Homo sapiens: one gene and its partner. Each later gene encodes a partner of the first gene's protein in a complex. Each region holds a gene or a part of one and is shown on either strand. Other genes may lie near its edges. A codon is read from its position in the direction of its gene.

Region 1 (8,349 bases):
TGTCTGAAATGCTGTGTGAAGTGGGGCGCTTAATAGGTGGTGAGATGGTTTTAGAACCAGGGTTTTCCCTCTTTGCTTCTTGACTCCTTAACCAGTTTTCATTAGGAGACCCCTTTGGAGGTTTGCAGTCAGTCAGAGTTGAGTGCCTACTGAGTGTACTGAATTATGAAATGAGCACAGTTCCCATTAACCTGAATTTTTTGCTCCCAAGTAAGTCTTGATTTCTGATTTATGACTGCTTTTTGTTGTACCCCAATAGTCGTCTAAGAAAGGTGATTATTTTGAGAGGCCTGGGGAGACACACATGCTCATTCTCGAGGGTGGCGGTGGTGCAGAGGGCAGAGCCATGCTCGTTCTTGCTATCCTGAGATTGGTTGCTATCTGTTTCCTTTGCTGCTGTGTTTTTTTCTGTCAGTATTAAAGGTGGAAGAAGGTCCATATCTTTTTCTGTGGGTGCTTCAAGTGTTGTTGGAAGTGGAGGCAGCAGTGACAAGGGGAAGCTTTCCCTGCAGGATGTAGCTGAGCTGATTCGGGCCAGAGCCTGCCAGAGGGTGGTGGTCATGGTGGGGGCCGGCATCAGCACACCCAGTGGCATTCCAGACTTCAGGTACTGCCCACAGTCCCACCTGCCTTCTGCGCTCCCCTCCCCTGACTCCTGCCCTCCCCACTGCCCAGTTTATTCCACTTCCCTGTCCTCTTCCAAAGGCCTCAGAGCCTTTCTTCTCTCCCTGCAGATCGCCGGGGAGTGGCCTGTACAGCAACCTCCAGCAGTACGATCTCCCGTACCCCGAGGCCATTTTTGAACTCCCATTCTTCTTTCACAACCCCAAGCCCTTTTTCACTTTGGCCAAGGAGCTGTACCCTGGAAACTACAAGCCCAACGTCACTCACTACTTTCTCCGGCTGCTTCATGACAAGGGGCTGCTTCTGCGGCTCTACACGCAGAACATCGATGGGCTTGAGAGAGGTGAGCCCTCTGTGAGTCGCACACATTCTTTTTCTCCCACGGAGGCTCGGGTGCCTGTTTCTCCCAGGGAGGCTCGGGTGCCTGTTTCTCACAGGGGATGCTCGGGTGCCTGTTTCTGGGGACGGCCAAAACCTATCGCTTATGCTTCTTCCTTGGGACTTTTTTTGAGCCAACTAGTTAGGGCTTTGTTCCCAAGGAAAATGTCCTCTGGGTGTTTAAAGGCCACTGCTTGTTCTCCTGCATACCTGCAGAGCTGTGTATTTTGGGCAGAAGTTGACATTGTTTTGCCAATCTGGTGTGATGATCTCTTTTTTTCTTCTCTCTTTTAAGAAGTGTATTATGGAATTTTTTTGAGCACACACAAAGAGAGCAATGTAACGAACCGTCCTGTCCTCATCACCAGCACACAGCCAGTTCTTCCTGCGTCCTCACCACCTTCTTCCAAATCCCCAGATTATTTTGAAGCAAATCTCTCACATCATGAATTTAATCTAGAAATAATCTATAAACACATGAATGGATAGCTCTAGAGAATACTTTAAAAACAACTCCGGCCGGGTGCCGGATTACAGGTGTGGGATCACACCTGTAATCCCAGCATTTTGGGAGGCCGAGGCAGGTAGATCACCTGAGGTCGGGAGTTCGAGACCAGCCTGGCCAACGTGGCAAAACCCCGTCTCTACTAAAAATACAAAAAATTAGCCAGGCGTGGTGGTGTGTGCCTGTAATCCCAGGTACTCGGGAGGCTGAGACAGGAGAATCTCTTGAACCCAGCAGGCGGAGGTTGCAGTGAGCCGAGATCGTGCCACTTCACTCCAGCCTGGGCGACAGAGGGAGATTCTGTCTCAAAAAAATAAATAAAAATAAAAATAATTAAAAAATAAAAACAACTCTGATAGTGATTCACACTGAAGAATCACTAGTAATTCCTTAATATGGTCACACTTAGTCTGTGGTGATTTCTTGACCGTATCCATATGGTGCCCAAACCAGCGATTCACAGGTTGTGCCAACTTCTGGCCGTGCACCTAACGGAAGCACTTGGTGGGGCCTTTTCCTTACGTGCAGTGATGCAGACAGGTGCTGGGACAGTCAGCTCTCCGGGAGCCAGGCTCCCGGAGAGACTGCTGATGTGTTGTCAGTTAAAAAGAGGTGGCACCTTGGCTCCAGGAATGTGTTTCCTTGCCAGAAGGATCCCCTGACTTGGAACCACAGAGGCAGCAGCGGATGCCCCATGTTGGTGGGCTCTTCTCCCAGAGGTGCAGCAGGGCAGGCCTTGTGGGAAGGTGGGAGCTCCTGGCTGTGAGATTCAGCACTGCTGAGTTAGGGCAGCGACAGGGACTTGGGAAGCCTCCTGCAGCTGGGACCCTGGCTGTGCCACCGCAGCCTTTCAGAACCAGTTAATACTAACACAACTTTCATAAGAAGTCACTTTTTGTCTGTTTCTACCAAGCAATTCTTTTGGAATTTATGATATTTATATCCTCATTTTAACTTGGTATCTGTAGAATAGAAGATATGTTCCTGGATATTAGATATAAATTTTTGAGACAGGGTCTTGGCTCTGTTGCCCAGGCTAGAGTGCAGTGGCATGATCATAGCTCACTATAGCCTGAACTCTTGGGCCGAAGTGATCCTTTTGCCTCAGCCTCTGGAATAGCTGGGACTACGGGCATGCACTACCATGCCTGGCTAATTAAAAAAATTTTTTAAGACAAGTCTCACTATGTTGCTGAGGCTGGTCTCAAACTCCTGGCCTCAAGTGATCCTCCTGCCTTGGCCTTCCAAAGCACTGGGATTACAGGCATGAGCCACTGCACCCAGCCTGGTATTAGGTGTAATTTTTTTTTTTTTTTTTGAGACAGAATCTCGCTCTCTTACCCAAACTGGAGTGCGGTGGCACGACCTCAGCTCACTGCAACTTCCACCTCCCGGGTTCAAGCGATTCTCCTGTCTCAGCCTCCCCGAGTAGCTGGCACTACAGGTGCCTGCCACCACATCTGGCTAATTTTTGTATTTTTAGTAGAGGTACGGTTTCACCATGATGGCCAGGCCGGTCTTGAACTCCTAGCCTCAAATGATCTGCCCACCTCGGCCTCCCAAAGTGCTGGGATTACAGGTGTGGGCCACTGTGCCCGGCTGGATATAATTTTATTTGAGCTTTTATCAAATGGTTTTTCGTACTGAGTTTTGACAGGCTTTGTTTTAACCGTGATTTGGCTCCAGCTAGGTGCCCCTTTGCTCCCCTGCCTTATTCTGGTTGATGGCGCATGTAGGTGATACGGGCATGAAAACCAGGCTTGAGGACATCACAACCCCAAGGGGCTGTGCCTCCTTCCAGGAGTCCTGCCAAGCCCAGAAGTTGTGCTCTTGGCCTTGCGTGCTCATCTCGGAGGCGGCAGCAACACTTCGCTTTGGCTTGAATTTCAGTGTCGGGCATCCCTGCCTCAAAGCTGGTTGAAGCTCATGGAACCTTTGCCTCTGCCACCTGCACAGTCTGCCAAAGACCCTTCCCAGGGGAGGACATTCGGGTGAGTTATCCTGCTGTTGGTTGTCCTTCTGCAGTTTGCTGTTGGGGTGATCTGGAAAAGTGGTATTTTATAAGCATTGTCTCGAAAGGACAGTTGAACAATAATAGTGTGAAACATTTTATTTGTAAATTAGAAAATCAATACATGCTTGTAAAAAAATTTAAGACAATATAGAAATATGTAGGGAAAATGAATCTCCCTTCAGCCAATTCCAGCTGCCCACTTTTTTTTTTTTTTTTTGAGATTGAGTCTCACTCTGTCGCCCAGGCTGGAGTGCAGTGGGCGATCTCGGCTCACTGCAACCTCCGTCTCCCGGATTCAAGGAATTCTTCTGCCTCAGCCTCCTAAGTAGCTGGGATTACAGGCGTGAGCCACCACGCCCGGCAATCAGATGGCCTTTTGTGCCGAGCTTATTTCCTGAAAATGTTTCTCGCTCCTTCGCCTTGTAGCTTGTGTTAGTATTTCATCCTGTTTCATGGCTAAATGTTCCACTGATGTATGCACCACAGTTGGTTTGTTTGTACATGGATGGGTGTTTGGGTTGTCCCACCTTTCTGCTCTTGTGTATAGTTCTGCTGTGGAGCATATGCAAGTATTCGTTTGAGAGTCCTTGTTTTTTATTCTTTTGAGTATGATACCTACAAGTATTGCTGGGTAACTCCACGTTTAGCTATATTTATTTATTTATTTTTTGAGACACAGTCTTACACTGTCACCCAGGCTGGAGTGCAATGGCGCGATTTCGGCTCAATACAACCTCTGCCTCCCGGGTTCAAGCGATTCTCCTGCCTCAGCCTCCTGAGAAGCTGGGATTACAGGTGCCTGCCACCATGCCCAGCTAATGTTTTTTGTATTTCTAGTAGAGATGGGGTTTCACCATGTTGGCCAGGCTGCTCTTGCATTCCTGACCTCAGGTGGTTCACCCGCCTCGGCCTCCCAAAGTGCTAAGATTACAGGCGTGAGCCACCATGCCCTGCCCATGTTTAACTTTTTTGTTTGTTTGTTTTGAGACGGAGTCTAGCTCTTATCACCAGGCTGGAGTGCAGTGGCGCAATCTCGGCTCACTGTACCATCCGCCTCCTGGGTTCAAGCGATTCTCCTGCCTCAGCTTCCTGAGTAGCTGGGACTACAGGCACACACCACCACGCCCGGCTAATTTTTGTATTTAGTAGAGTAGTTTCACCATGTTGGCCAGGATGTCTCGATCTCTTGACCTCGTGATCCGCCTGCCTCTTTCTCCCAAAGTGTGGGATTACAGGCGAGAGCCACTGCGCCCGGCCCGTTTTAACTTTTTGAGGAACGAATATACTGTTATCTGCAGAAGCTGGACCATTTTACATTCCACCAACAGTGGGCAAGGGTTTCATCTTTTCCACATCCCAACACTTACTTTCCATTTTTTAATTACAGCTATCCCAGTGGGTGGGAGGTGGTAACCCACTGTAGCACTGATTGGCATTTTCCTAATGATTCATGATATCAAACATCTTTCCATGTGCTTTTTGGCCATTTGTATATCTTTGGAGATTGAAGTCCTTTGCGCATTGTTTAATTGTGTTGTCTTTTTTATTGTTAAGAGAGTCCTTTATATATTCTGGAAGCTAGATCCTTATCAGAGACATGATTTGCAAATATTTTCTGTCATTCTGTAGGTTGTCTTTTTTACTTTGTTGATGTCTTTTGATGCATAGAAGTTTTGATTTTGATGAAATCTAGTTTGTCTATTTATTTTCTCACTCTTTTGGAATCATATCTGAGAAATGGTATTGTTTTACTCCTGTTTTCTTATAAGAGTTTTATAGTTTAAAGCTTTTACATTTAGTTCTTTGATCCATTTTGAGTTAATTTTTGTGTGCGCTGTAAGGTAGGGATCCAGCTTCATTTTCTTTTATGTGGATATGTAATTGTTCCAGCACCATTTGTTTAAAAAAACTGTGGTCTTGGCATTGTTGTTGAAAATCAGTTGGCCATAGGTGTATGGGTTATTTCTAGAGTCTCAATTCTATTCCATTGTTATCTGTATATCCTTGTGCCTGCACTATAATGTTTTGGTTACTGTAGCTTTGTAGTAAGTTTTGAAATTAGGAAGTGTGAGTCCAGCACATAGTAGAAACTTGATATATACGTATTATTGTTTTGGTCAACTCATTCATTGAATGACCAATTTATTCAACAAATAGTTTAGTCTCCTCAGTGCCAGGCCCTTTGCTGGGTTCTGTGGATGTGAATAGAAATTAAAATAAGGTGGAGTCATCCAACAGTTACAACTGGGTGCCATACGAATTTTACTATAAATATGTACTGGACACTACACTGACTCAGCTGTAGGAACAGAGTAGGCTGGGAAGCACCTTTGAGATGAGGCCGTCTGGATGTAAGAGTCTGTTTCTGGCAGCAGAGACCTGGAGTGTGGGAGGCCTGCTTGCTCTGTTAGGGTTTGAACTGTATCCTGACGATCATGGGAGGCATTGGAGGATTTTTAGGCAGGAAAATGATGTGAAGGGATTTGCATTTAAAAGAGATTATTTGGGACTGGGCACAGTGGCTCACGCCTGTAATTCCAGCACTTTGGGAGGCCTAGACAGGCGGGTCACCTGAGGTGGGAAGCTTGAGAGCAGCCTGCCAAAATGGTGAAATCCCATCTCTACTAAAAATACAAAAATTAGCCAGGTGTGGTGGTGCACCTGTAATCCCAGCTACTCAGGAGGCTGAGGCAGAAGAATTGCTTGAACCTGGGAGGGGAGGTTGCTGTGAGCTGAGATCGCACCACTGCACTCCAGCCTGGGTGACAGAGTGAGACTCCATCTCAAAACAAAATAAATAAATAAATAAGAGAATAAAATAGATAATTTGGGCAACAGGTTGATGTTAATTCCCCACCTTTGTTCTTCTCCTTCAGTACTGTGTTGGCTGGTCTGAATCTTTTGGCTTTTCATATAAATTTCTGAAACTGTTGCTATCTGTTCTCTGCCTGTTTTATTTTTGTTGTTGTTGTTTGGATTTTTTGTTTTTTTGAGATAGAGTCTTGCTCTGTTGCCCAGGCTGGAGTGCAGTGGTATGATCTCAGCTCATTGCAACCTCCCCCTCTCAGGTTCAAGCGATTCTCTTGCCTCATCCTCCTGAGTAGCTGGGATTGCAGGCATGCGCCACCATGCCCAGCTAATTTTTGTATTTTTAGTAGAGATGGGGTTTCACTATGTTGGTGAGGCTGGTGTCGAACTCCTGACCTCATGATCCACCCGCCTCGGCCTCCCAAAGTGCTGGGATGACAGGCATGAGCCACCGTGTCTGGCCTCTCTGCCTGTTTTTTAAGACTTTTGTCTTTGGAGTTTTGCGGTTTCTCCACTGTGGTTTTCCATATGAATTTTCTTTTATTTCTTCTGCTTAAAATTTGTAGGCCAGTTGGTCATGGTGGCTCACGCCCGTAATCCCAGTACTTTGGGAGGCCGGGTGGGTGGATCGCCTGAGGTCAGGAGTTTGAGACCAGCCTGACCAACATGGAGAAACCCCATATCTACTAAAAATACAAAATTAGCCGGGCGTGATGGTGCATGCCTATAATCTCAGATACTCGGGAGGCTGAGGCAGGCGAATTGCTTGAACCAGGGAGGCGGAGGTTGCGGTGAGCTGAGATTAGGCCATTGCACTCCAGCCTGGGAAACAAGAGCGAAACTCCATCTCAAAAAAAAAAAAATAATAATAATAATTGTAGGCCTTCCTTAAGAAAAATAAAATAAAATTCTAGGCTGGGCGCGGTGGCTCCTGCCTGTAATCCCAGTACTTTGGGAAGCTGAGGCGGGTGGATCACCTGAGTTAGGAGTTTGAGACCAGCCTGGCCAACATGGTGAAACCCCGTCTCTACTAAAAATACAAAGATGAGCCATTTGTGGTGGCACCCATCTGTAATCCCAGCTACTCGGGAGGCTGAGGCAGGAGAATTGCTGGAACCCAGGAGGCAGAAGTTGTAGTGAACCGAGATCATGCCACTGCACTCCAGCCTGGGTGACAGAGCGAGATGCCATCTCAAAAAAATAAAATATAAAATAAAATTCTAAGCCCTGCAACCAACTGAATGGAGCCCTCCCCTTGGTCAAGGGAACCCCAGAGAAACCTTGGAAGCTTGAGTTCCTGGCCGTAGCAGGAGAGGAGGTCAGACGCGCCTCACTGTACCCCTCCCTCCCCAGCCACCATTAGGCTTCTTCACTAAGGGCTAAACAGAAACCAGCCCTTTTCAAAGACTCTACACTGCTAATGTGGATTACTGGTTTATCTTCCCAGATACAGATTAAAGACAAGATGAGATTAATGGTTCCTTCACCCTTCCCTGAGAGGTCTGCTTAGTTCTCTTCCTCTGTTTCCTTCTATCTTAGGTAAAATGTACATTTACTGGGCACTTACTGAAGTCTCACAAGTACGTAACCACTCACCTCACAGCCACCCTCCCTCTTTGAAGGACCACATGTAATTACTAAACCTCCTGAGAACCTCTTGGGACAGAAACAAGCACAGATGTGCCGTGACTCATGTTTTTCCTGTGGGCACCCTCAGGCTGGCTCAGTAGCCCTCACTTGCTTGAGATCCTGAATCTGCGGGTTGGCGTCTTTCATGGTTGCTGGATCATACTCTGCCGTTATCTCTTCGGATATGAGTTGCCCCTAGCCCACTATCTGGCCCCTCTCTTTAGGGACCTCTGATTGAACATACATTAGACCTTCTCTCTCCTGCTGTTCCTGATCACTCTTCTGTCCTGTAATTGCTGCTTCTTGTGCTGCATTCTGGGTAATTTCTTCTGGTCTTTTTTCCAGTTTACTAATATTGTATTCTGTTATAAGGTCCTTCCATTGAGTGTTT
Region 2 (8,349 bases), on another chromosome or scaffold:
AAATAGTTTTTTTGTGGATTCATTAGGATTTATACATAGTAGATCATATCATCTCTGAATATAGTTTTACTTCTTCTTTTCCAATTTGGATGTCTTTTATTTCTTTTTTTTTTTTTTTTTTGCCTGATCACTCTGGCAACAACTTTGTTTACAATGTTGAATTGCAGTGGTGAAAAGTGGGCATCCTTGTTTTGTTCCTGATCTTAGGGGGAAGGCTTCAGTCTTTTACCATTAATATGATGTTAGCTGTGGGTTTTCAGATGCTCTTTATCCATTAAGTTCCCTTCTATTCCTAGTTTTAAGTGTTTGATCATCAAAGGGTGTTGGATTTTGTCAAATGCTTGCTCTGCGTCAATTGAGATGTGTTTTTTCCTTCATTGTAGTAGTGTGATGTATTACAGTGATTAATTGTTGCATGTTGAACCACCCTTCCTTTCCTAGGGTAAGTCCTGATTGGTCATAGTATATTCTGTTAATATGCTGCTGGATACAGTTTGCTAGCATTTTGTGGAAGAGTTTTGTATCATTGTTTATATGAGATATTTGTCTGTAGTTTTCTTTTCTATAGTAATCTTTGTCTGGCTTTAGTATCAGGGTAATGCTGGCCTCATAAAATGAATTTGAAAGTATCTCCTCTTCAATTTTTTGGAAGAGTTTGAGAAGGATTGGTGCTAATTCTTTAAATATTTCATAGAATTCACCAGTGAAGTCATCTGGTTCTGGTCTTTAGAAAGGGAAGAAGATGGGTAAACTGAGACACAGAGAGTTTAAGTGACTTACCTAAGGTCACATACCTAGTAAGTGACAGAGCCAGGAGTTGAACACAGACATTCTGCTGCCATAGTTGATGCTTTCAGCATTATGCTAAGCTGCCCCTTTTCTCTCTTGCTGGTGTGGCCATGGTCACCCAGTGCTTCTGTTGAGATTGTTTGAAACAAGCAATAGCAGTTGACTCTTGGTGACTTCATCATGTGGGGATTTAGTAGCTGGATGCTGGGGCAGCTCCCAGAACCTCAGAATTCCTAAACAACCAAGCATGGGAGGGCAGGGGCCATGACTCTGTCCTGAAGAGGACTCTGCCCTGATATCCTTCAGCCTTTTTGTGCAGCTCTGCAGGTACCAGGTTCCTGGGGACAAGATTCTGTTGAGATGGGTATCTGTGTCCTGTTGGGTCAATGAGGGGCTGTTTTGGTTTTCTATTGCTGTGTCACAAACTACTCCAAAACTTAGTGTTTAATAAAACTGAAAACAATAAATTTTAGTATTCTATTTCATGGGTCTGTGGGACAGGAATCAGATGGGGACAGGGGAATGGCTGTTTTCTGCTCCATGACATCTGGGACATTAGTCAGGTTGACTTGAAGGGTTGGGGACTGGTGGGCCTGTCTTTCTCTCCACGTGGCCTCTTCACATGGCTGACTTGGGCTTCCTCATAGCCTTGCAGCCTTAGCAGTCAGGCTTGTCACATGGCAGCACATGGCTCCAAGAGGAAGGAAATAGCAACTGCCAGTGTCCTACAGTCCAGGCTGGCACAGGCCTGGCATCACTCTTGCCTTACTAGATTGGCCGAACCAGTCCGTGGCCATTCTAGATTCAAGGGGAGGAGACCTGGATCCTGCTTCTCTATAAGAGCAGGTGAAAGAATGTGCAGCCATCTTCAGTTGGCCACTGGGAGGTGGGTGTATATTGTGAGTCTGACCGCTAGGCTCTCACATGTCTGGGCAGCCACCTTAGTCAGCAGGTGCAGTTCCAGAGTTCAGTCCCCTGGCCTGGCTTCCAGGGTTGGACCATCCCTCTTCATTTGTCTTCCCTCTTGCTTTAGGCTGCTTGAGGAGTGGAGAGTGTTGCAGGGGAGGGTAGAGGTCAGGAGAATGGCTTTGAGAGAGACTGTGGGGGTAGAATAATGACCCACTCAGATGGCCACACTGTAATCCCCCAGAAGCTGTGCTATGTCACTTGCATGGTGAAAGACTTTGCACATATGAATAAGGCAATAGGATATCCAGGTGGGCTCCATCTAATCCCACATCCTTAATGCACAGAACTTGCTCCAACTAGAGGCAGAGGAAGTGAAGCAGAAGGGGAGGTCAGAGAGATTCAAAGCAACTTTACCCGCCGTTGCTGGCTTTGAAGATAAACAGGGCCACGAACCAGGGCAGGTGGTGGCTGTAGTCGCTGAGAATGACCCCTGGCTGACAGTCAGCAAGGAAAAGGCGACCTTAATCCCTCAGTCGCGTGGAACTGAGTTCTGCCAACCACTGAAATGGCCTGGAGGTGGATACTCCCCCAGAGCCACCACATAGGAGCCAGCCCTGTCCTTGACTTTGGCCTTGTGAGACTCTAACAGAGAACCCCACCAAGCCTGTCCAGACGACAGAACTCTGAGCTAAAAATGAGTGTTCTGAGCCACTAAGTTTGTGGTCATTTGTTATGGAAGCAGCAGAAAATGAACGCAGATGCTGGTACCTGCTCAAAACCAGGGAGAGAAAATTGAATCCTCCCAGAGTGGCATGTGGTTCCTGCCAGCACCCATGCTGTGGCCCAGCCTTGGAGGGCGCCAGTGGGCCAGACATGCTCATGGTGCTCAGAAGCTCCTGGGTACTTCCTAGAGGACCTCCTGGAGAGCCTACTGGGCAGGGAGGCCCTGGACAGGTGCGAGTCAGGAGTGAGGTGTGCGCCTTGGGAGGTGGGGAAGGAACTGCCTGCTGTGTAGTGTGATTTCAGCATGTTGCATGGGCTGGGGTCATTGTATCGTGAGAGCTTCTGACCCCCATGAGCTTTCTTTGTCTCCCGTCCCCTTGAGAAAGGTTCATTCCTTCCTGCTGGTCCATCTCCCTTCCTCGCCCATAGGGGGCTTACCTGGACCAACCCCTGCTTGGGGATGTAGGTCTGGAAAGTCTCTGATAGGCTCCACCCAACTGACTTGGTTTCCCCAGGTGAGCTATCGCTGAGGCTTGAAGGCCAAAGAGTGTGTGTAGCCACGGCTCTTGGTGCCAGATGCAGGGGTGGCTGCATCTGGGCAGGTCTAGGGTATCTCTCTGACCCCCGGATGGTGCTGTGTGTGCTGGAAAATTCTCAGGGAACCCTCATGGCCATGACATCTCCAGGGCTCTTAGGAGGAGAAAGGGTGGGCCTGTTGTGCAAAAGTGCTTTCAGATTTATTTAGGTAGGACTCTCCCAGAGGGGACATTGAGGCCAGAGTCTGTCTTGGAAGTGTGGTAGGGCAGTGGTGGCTCTGGACGGGAATGTGGCACACATGCCTCAAATGGCTCCATGCAAAGGGTAGGGAGTTGCAGGATTTGTACCCCAATTATGGAGAGCCATTGGTCGAGGGTTCCCCAGCACTTCTGCCCATAGCTCTGCAAGAGGCCTTTGGTGCAGAATGACTGAAAGGCCCAAGGGATGTGGGTGAGGCCCTGCCAGTCAGGGTCACAGCTGGGCATTTGTCCCAGGCTCTTCCTGAGGGGCTGTGTAGTAACCCCCCGCAGCTGTGATCCCTCTGGGTCATCCCGCACTGGGGCACAGCGTGGAGGACACCTCCTTTTCCTGGGGTCTTGAGGCCCACTGTGCGTGCACCCCTCTTCTCTGCTCTGGGCCTACCCCTAGGTTAGCCATGGAAGCTAGGGTCCTCCTGGCTTCCCCCTGGGCCTGGCTGAGCAACATTGGTCATTGAAGAGCAGGTGTGGGATCAGGAGGGCCTTCTCCTGAAGGTAAGGTGGGCAGGCAGCTCCCAGTCATCCACTGGGGTGTGGTTTCTGATCTCTGGACAGTGAAGGCTCTTGGCCCACACAAGTCACTCTAGACAGGGCCTGGCCACATGGGACACCTTTGGGCTTGGCCTCTGGTTGTCCAGCTTTCTTGTTCTCTGCCTCTCGGTATTTCTCTGTCACCTTGATTGCTGCAGGTGGCATGATGGCCTCTTTCCTGGGGTTTGCTCCTGGGCAGACAGGAGAGAAAGGTGGAAGTCTGGTTGGGAAATTGTCTTTATGCTGCTGACTCAAGGAGGAAGAGCTGAGCTTCAAAGTAATTTATCTCTGGTTCCTTCCCCTCAGCCTCAGAACTGGACAAAGGCCTGGTGCTTCTTCATGGCACACAAAGGCTGGAGAGCAGGCAGCCCCTCACTTTTTCCATTGAGTCTTTTACTCAAGATTGGACTGAGTTTCTCACACTCCTAGGCCTGGATGTCCTATGTGAGTCAGAGCTATGAGGGTTAAAGTCGGGAGGAGACTGATCAGAAATGTCTGTGTTGTCTCTGTTAGCCAAGTGCAAGGTGGTTATCACCTTCAACCAAGGACTCCGGGGTGGGCGCGTGGTGGAGCTGAAGAAAATAGTGGATGAGGCTGTGAAGCACTGCCCCACCGTGCAGCATGTCCTGGTGGCTCACAGGACAGACAACAAGGTCCACATGGGGGATCTGGACGTCCCGCTGGAGCAGGTGGGTTACCTCGCTTTGCACAGTTTGAGGCGAGGTCATATCAAGTTAGCTGGCTCTGAGGCTTCTCGGGTTGTGGTTCTCAATTTGGGTTCCCTAGAGGTGCCCAGGGTTCCTCTGTGGTATTTGGTGAGCTTGAGTCCTGACTGGGAAGATAAAACTCCTATACGACAAGCATGTTGGAACACTTACTGTAACACAAATGCTTGCACCCACGCTTTTGTTTTGTGTCCTTTCCACATTTGGAATTGAACTTGGACAGGTCAGAGCAGGTGAATTCTGAATCCTGTGTGTGGAGTCCTGCTGCGGAGGGGGAGTGCTGCTCTCAGAGAGGCTGAGTGCCCTCGGTGGGCTGTTTGTTTCTTCTCCCTGCCAGGAAATGGCCAAGGAGGACCCTGTTTGCGCCCCAGAGAGCATGGGCAGTGAGGACATGCTCTTCATGCTGTACACCTCAGGGAGCACCGGAATGCCCAAGGGCATCGTCCATACCCAGGCAGGCTACCTGCTCTATGCCGCCCTGACTCACAAGGTACAGGCCTGTGCGGGCGGTGCTGGGCCCTTGGCAGGGATCCAGGCAGGGGCAGGGCTGGAAGTCCTCCTGCTGCAGAGCGAGGCCTGTAGGTGTGAGAGGTCAGTGTTTCTTCCTGGCCTATTCGGGGCAGGGCCCCCTCGAGTCCTCCCACCCTACAGCTCCTCAGGGCCCTGGCTGCCTCAAGCCCCCACTGCACTGTCTGGAAACTCCCAGATAATCTGATCATGTAACGCGGCAGCAGGACACTAAGGGCCATTCGCCCAAAGATTTTTAAAAACTCTTTTTAGAACAGATAGAGAAAACCACCCAAATTAAATGCATGGCTTAATGAATTATTATAAGGCAAATGCCACTTTGATCAAGAAGTGGAAGGCCACCGGTTTCTCAGAAGCCCCTTCCAGGCCCATATGGCCACAGCCCCGTCCAGCATGTCTTGATGTGTCTTGTGCGCCTGCCCTGTTTTTATTTTGATAGTTTTGTGACCCATATGAGCATCCGTGGGCACTGTAGCTTACTGTTGCCAATTAAAATATTGTTTTTTCTTTTGTTTTGTTTTGTTTTGTTTTGTTTTGTTTTTTCATGGAGTCTCACTCTGTTGTCCAGGTTAGAGTGCAGTGGTGTGATCTCAGATCACTGCAACCTTTGCCTCCTGGGTTCAAGTGACTCTCCTGTCTCAGCTTTCTGAGTAGCTGGGATTACAGGCACCTGCCACCACACCCTGCTAATTTTTTTTTGTATTTTTAGTAGAGACAGGGTTTTGCCATGTTGGTCAGGCTGGTCTTGAACTTCTGACCTCAAGTGATCTGCCCGCCTTGGCCTCTCCAAGTGCTGGAATTACAGGTGTGAGCCACCGTGTCCGGCCTAAAATATTGTTGATATGTGTTTTAAGTCTTTTTAAGCCTATGCTCCCCCATTTCCTTACACTTGGCCATAGTCACATCCAGCCATTTTTCTCTGGTGTCCTTTGGTCTGGGTTGTGCCTGTTGTCCCTCTGCCTCTGTGTTTCCTGCACGTGGGCAGTTAGATCCTGAGATGGGATCAGGCTCCACTCAGTTGCTGTGGAAGAATAAAGGGGATTCGGATGTCTGTCCTCTCATGCTCCTCGAAGCTGATGATGCTTGATGCCATTCTTGGCCTTTTTTGCTTTTATTTTTTGTAGTTCTTAAGGGGTTTAAAAAATCGTGGCATAAGGTAATGCAAAAAGGTGTCCATGTGTTAAACGTACAACTAGACGGACTCTGCAGTGTGCCCACCTGTCCTGCTGCTGGAGGCCATTTGAGGAGCCAGCTGCCTCTCACAGCTATGGACTGCAGCCTATGCATGCCTATTTCCTAGTGACCTGGTGTGAACATGGTGGAGTGGGGGGACAAGCTCCTGATGCTCCTTTCCTGTCTCTGCAGCTTGTGTTTGACCACCAGCCAGGTGACATCTTTGGCTGTGTGGCCGACATCGGTTGGATTACAGGACACAGCTACGTGGTGTATGGGCCTCTCTGCAATGGTGCCACCAGCGTCCTTTTTGAGAGCACCCCAGTTTATCCCAATGCTGGTAAGGATGGTGAACCCTGTTTGGGACCCCATGCTGGTGTCAGGGGAGAGAGCCTGAGGCTCGAGGCTTGTGGAGAGGTTCATGGAAGGGGGACGCCTGGGTTCTGGTGAGGGTGTGGCTCTCCAGGTCCTGCTGTCGAAATGCCCGGTGGGGCCAGGCCCCAGGTCTTCAGAAAGATCTGACAGGCAGCAGCAGGGAGTCTGACTTGGTGCTGGAGGACATCTCAAGGCCCCTGCTCCTGCACTCCTGCCCTCTGACTTAAACTGCCGGCCTCAGGCCATCGCTTTGGCATCCTTCTCACCTCTAGGCTGCTTGCCCAGATCCAGCCCTTTCTCAAAGCCAGGGCCAGCTGCCCGCCACTTCTGTGTCCCCAGCCCTGCCCCTGAGCCTTCAGGGCTGTCCCTCAAACCATGTTAGGCATGGCCTAGAACCATCTCCATTAAATTGAGATCACTTTGAAGACAAGGTGATGACTGGCTCCCTTGGGCATCGTCCTCCCACACAGCACAGTGTCTTCAAATATTTTCTTTAATGTAAGCAGATCATGGTGGCTCTGCCCAAAGGCTGCTGCTCCAGTGTTCCATGGCACTGACAACTGTGCATGGACTGTGTTATCACCTCCCAGTGCTCCATCCCTGCCTTTGGGGGCTGGGTGTGCTCAAGGAAGAAGTTGTAGGGGCAAGACCAGGGATTAAGGGCCATGGCCCAGGTGCTGTCTCAGGCCACCACTTCAGCCCTTAGAAGCTCAGTGTTCCATGTGGAGGGGATGGTGTGGGTAGTGGGTTTACAGGAACCAGGGGTGTGCATGCCGGGCACATGGCCCTGCTCCCTGGGACACACGCAGTGGCAGCTGTACTGTCACCAGGGGAAGCACCAGTCACCACTTTAGAGCCCATGTGAGTGTGATCGAGTGAAAGCTCTGTGTTAATGCTCCATGGGTTATTAAATCCACGTAGTATCACCTTGAACTAGGCCATCACCCTAAGCCTGGTGAAGACTGTTCCTGAATGTGCCGCCCATGGATCTGGGGAGTGCTTGGAGGAGAGCGGCCATTGGGGACCTGTCCCATGGGGCTTCTTTCCATCTTTCACTGGCGGGGGTGGGGGGTTGGGGGGATCCCTTTCATATGGACATATGCGCGTCTGCACATGCCCAGCACTCAGGAAGTCTTGGCTGATCTCTGAGTTTAAAGTAAACCATGTCAGCTCTCCTGCTGACAGTGAATTTCGGCCTTTCTGTAGGTCGGTACTGGGAGACAGTAGAGAGGTTGAAGATCAATCAGTTCTATGGCGCCCCAACGGCTGTCCGGCTGTTGCTGAAATACGGTGATGCCTGGGTGAAGAAGTATGATCGCTCCTCCCTGCGGACCCTGGGGTCAGGTGAGCGGCCTGCCCTGCAGCAGGAGAGGTTGTGCTTGCCCTAGACCCTCAGAGCCAATACGGGCTTCAGCAGGACTTCAGTCATGAAGCTGCCCGGCTTTGTATGTGTGAATTCACGCAATGCCAGACCGGATCTGGTAGAAAGCACCAGCACCTCTTCCCACCTGTAAGCTCCTCCCCAGAGCTGGCAGCAGTTACCTGTCTGGGGAACAACGTTCCAGACATTTTCTGTGCCGTTGTTTCTGTGCCCAATTTCTGTAGCTTAATCTTCATTAGGAATACTTACCCACTCAATAAGTTAAGGGTCAGGTCAGTTCTTTAGTGGCTGCATGGGATTTAACTGTATAACTTAGCTGGGTGTGGTGGCAAAGGCTGAGGTGGGAGGATTGCTTGAGCCCAGGAGTTTCAGGCTGCAGTGAACTAGGATTGCACCACTGCGCTCCAGCCTGGTGACAGAG

The links.
Region 2: the proteins of SIRT3 (region 1) and ACSS1 are in contact, whole or in part, in a crystal structure (PDB 3GLT), measured with the Homo sapiens proteins. Residues at the interface, in NP_036371.1 of Homo sapiens: Gly145, Ala146, Gly147, Thr150, Pro151, Asp156, Phe157, Arg158, Ser159 (codon at 736), Glu177 (codon at 790), Phe180 (codon at 799), Gln228 (codon at 943), Asn229 (codon at 946), Ile230 (codon at 949), His248 (codon at 3,433), Ile291, Val292, Phe293, Phe294, Gly295, Glu296, Pro297, Leu298, Gly319, Thr320, Ser321, Leu322, Glu323, Val324, Glu325; in NP_115890.2 of Homo sapiens: Ser640, Gly641, Lys642, Val643, Met644, Arg645.

What each region holds. Positions count from the first base shown.
Region 1 is NC_000011.10:225,601-233,949, reverse strand, and holds part of SIRT3 (NAD-dependent protein deacetylase sirtuin-3, mitochondrial), read left to right. Parts: exon of another isoform or gene 1-210; intron 211-415; coding exon 416-607; intron 608-734; coding exon 735-967; intron 968-3,243; exon of another isoform or gene 3,244-3,397; coding exon 3,398-3,498; intron 3,499-7,868; exon of another isoform or gene 7,869-8,277; intron 8,278-8,349.
Region 2 is NC_000020.11:25,019,552-25,027,900, reverse strand, and holds part of ACSS1 (acetyl-coenzyme A synthetase 2-like, mitochondrial isoform 1 precursor), read left to right. Parts: intron 1-4,259; coding exon 4,260-4,435; intron 4,436-4,808; coding exon 4,809-4,961; intron 4,962-6,364; coding exon 6,365-6,512; intron 6,513-7,753; coding exon 7,754-7,891; intron 7,892-8,349. UniProt on the Homo sapiens protein: Catalyzes the synthesis of acetyl-CoA from short-chain fatty acids. Acetate is the preferred substrate. Can also utilize propionate with a much lower affinity. Provides acetyl-CoA that is utilized mainly for oxidation under ketogenic conditions.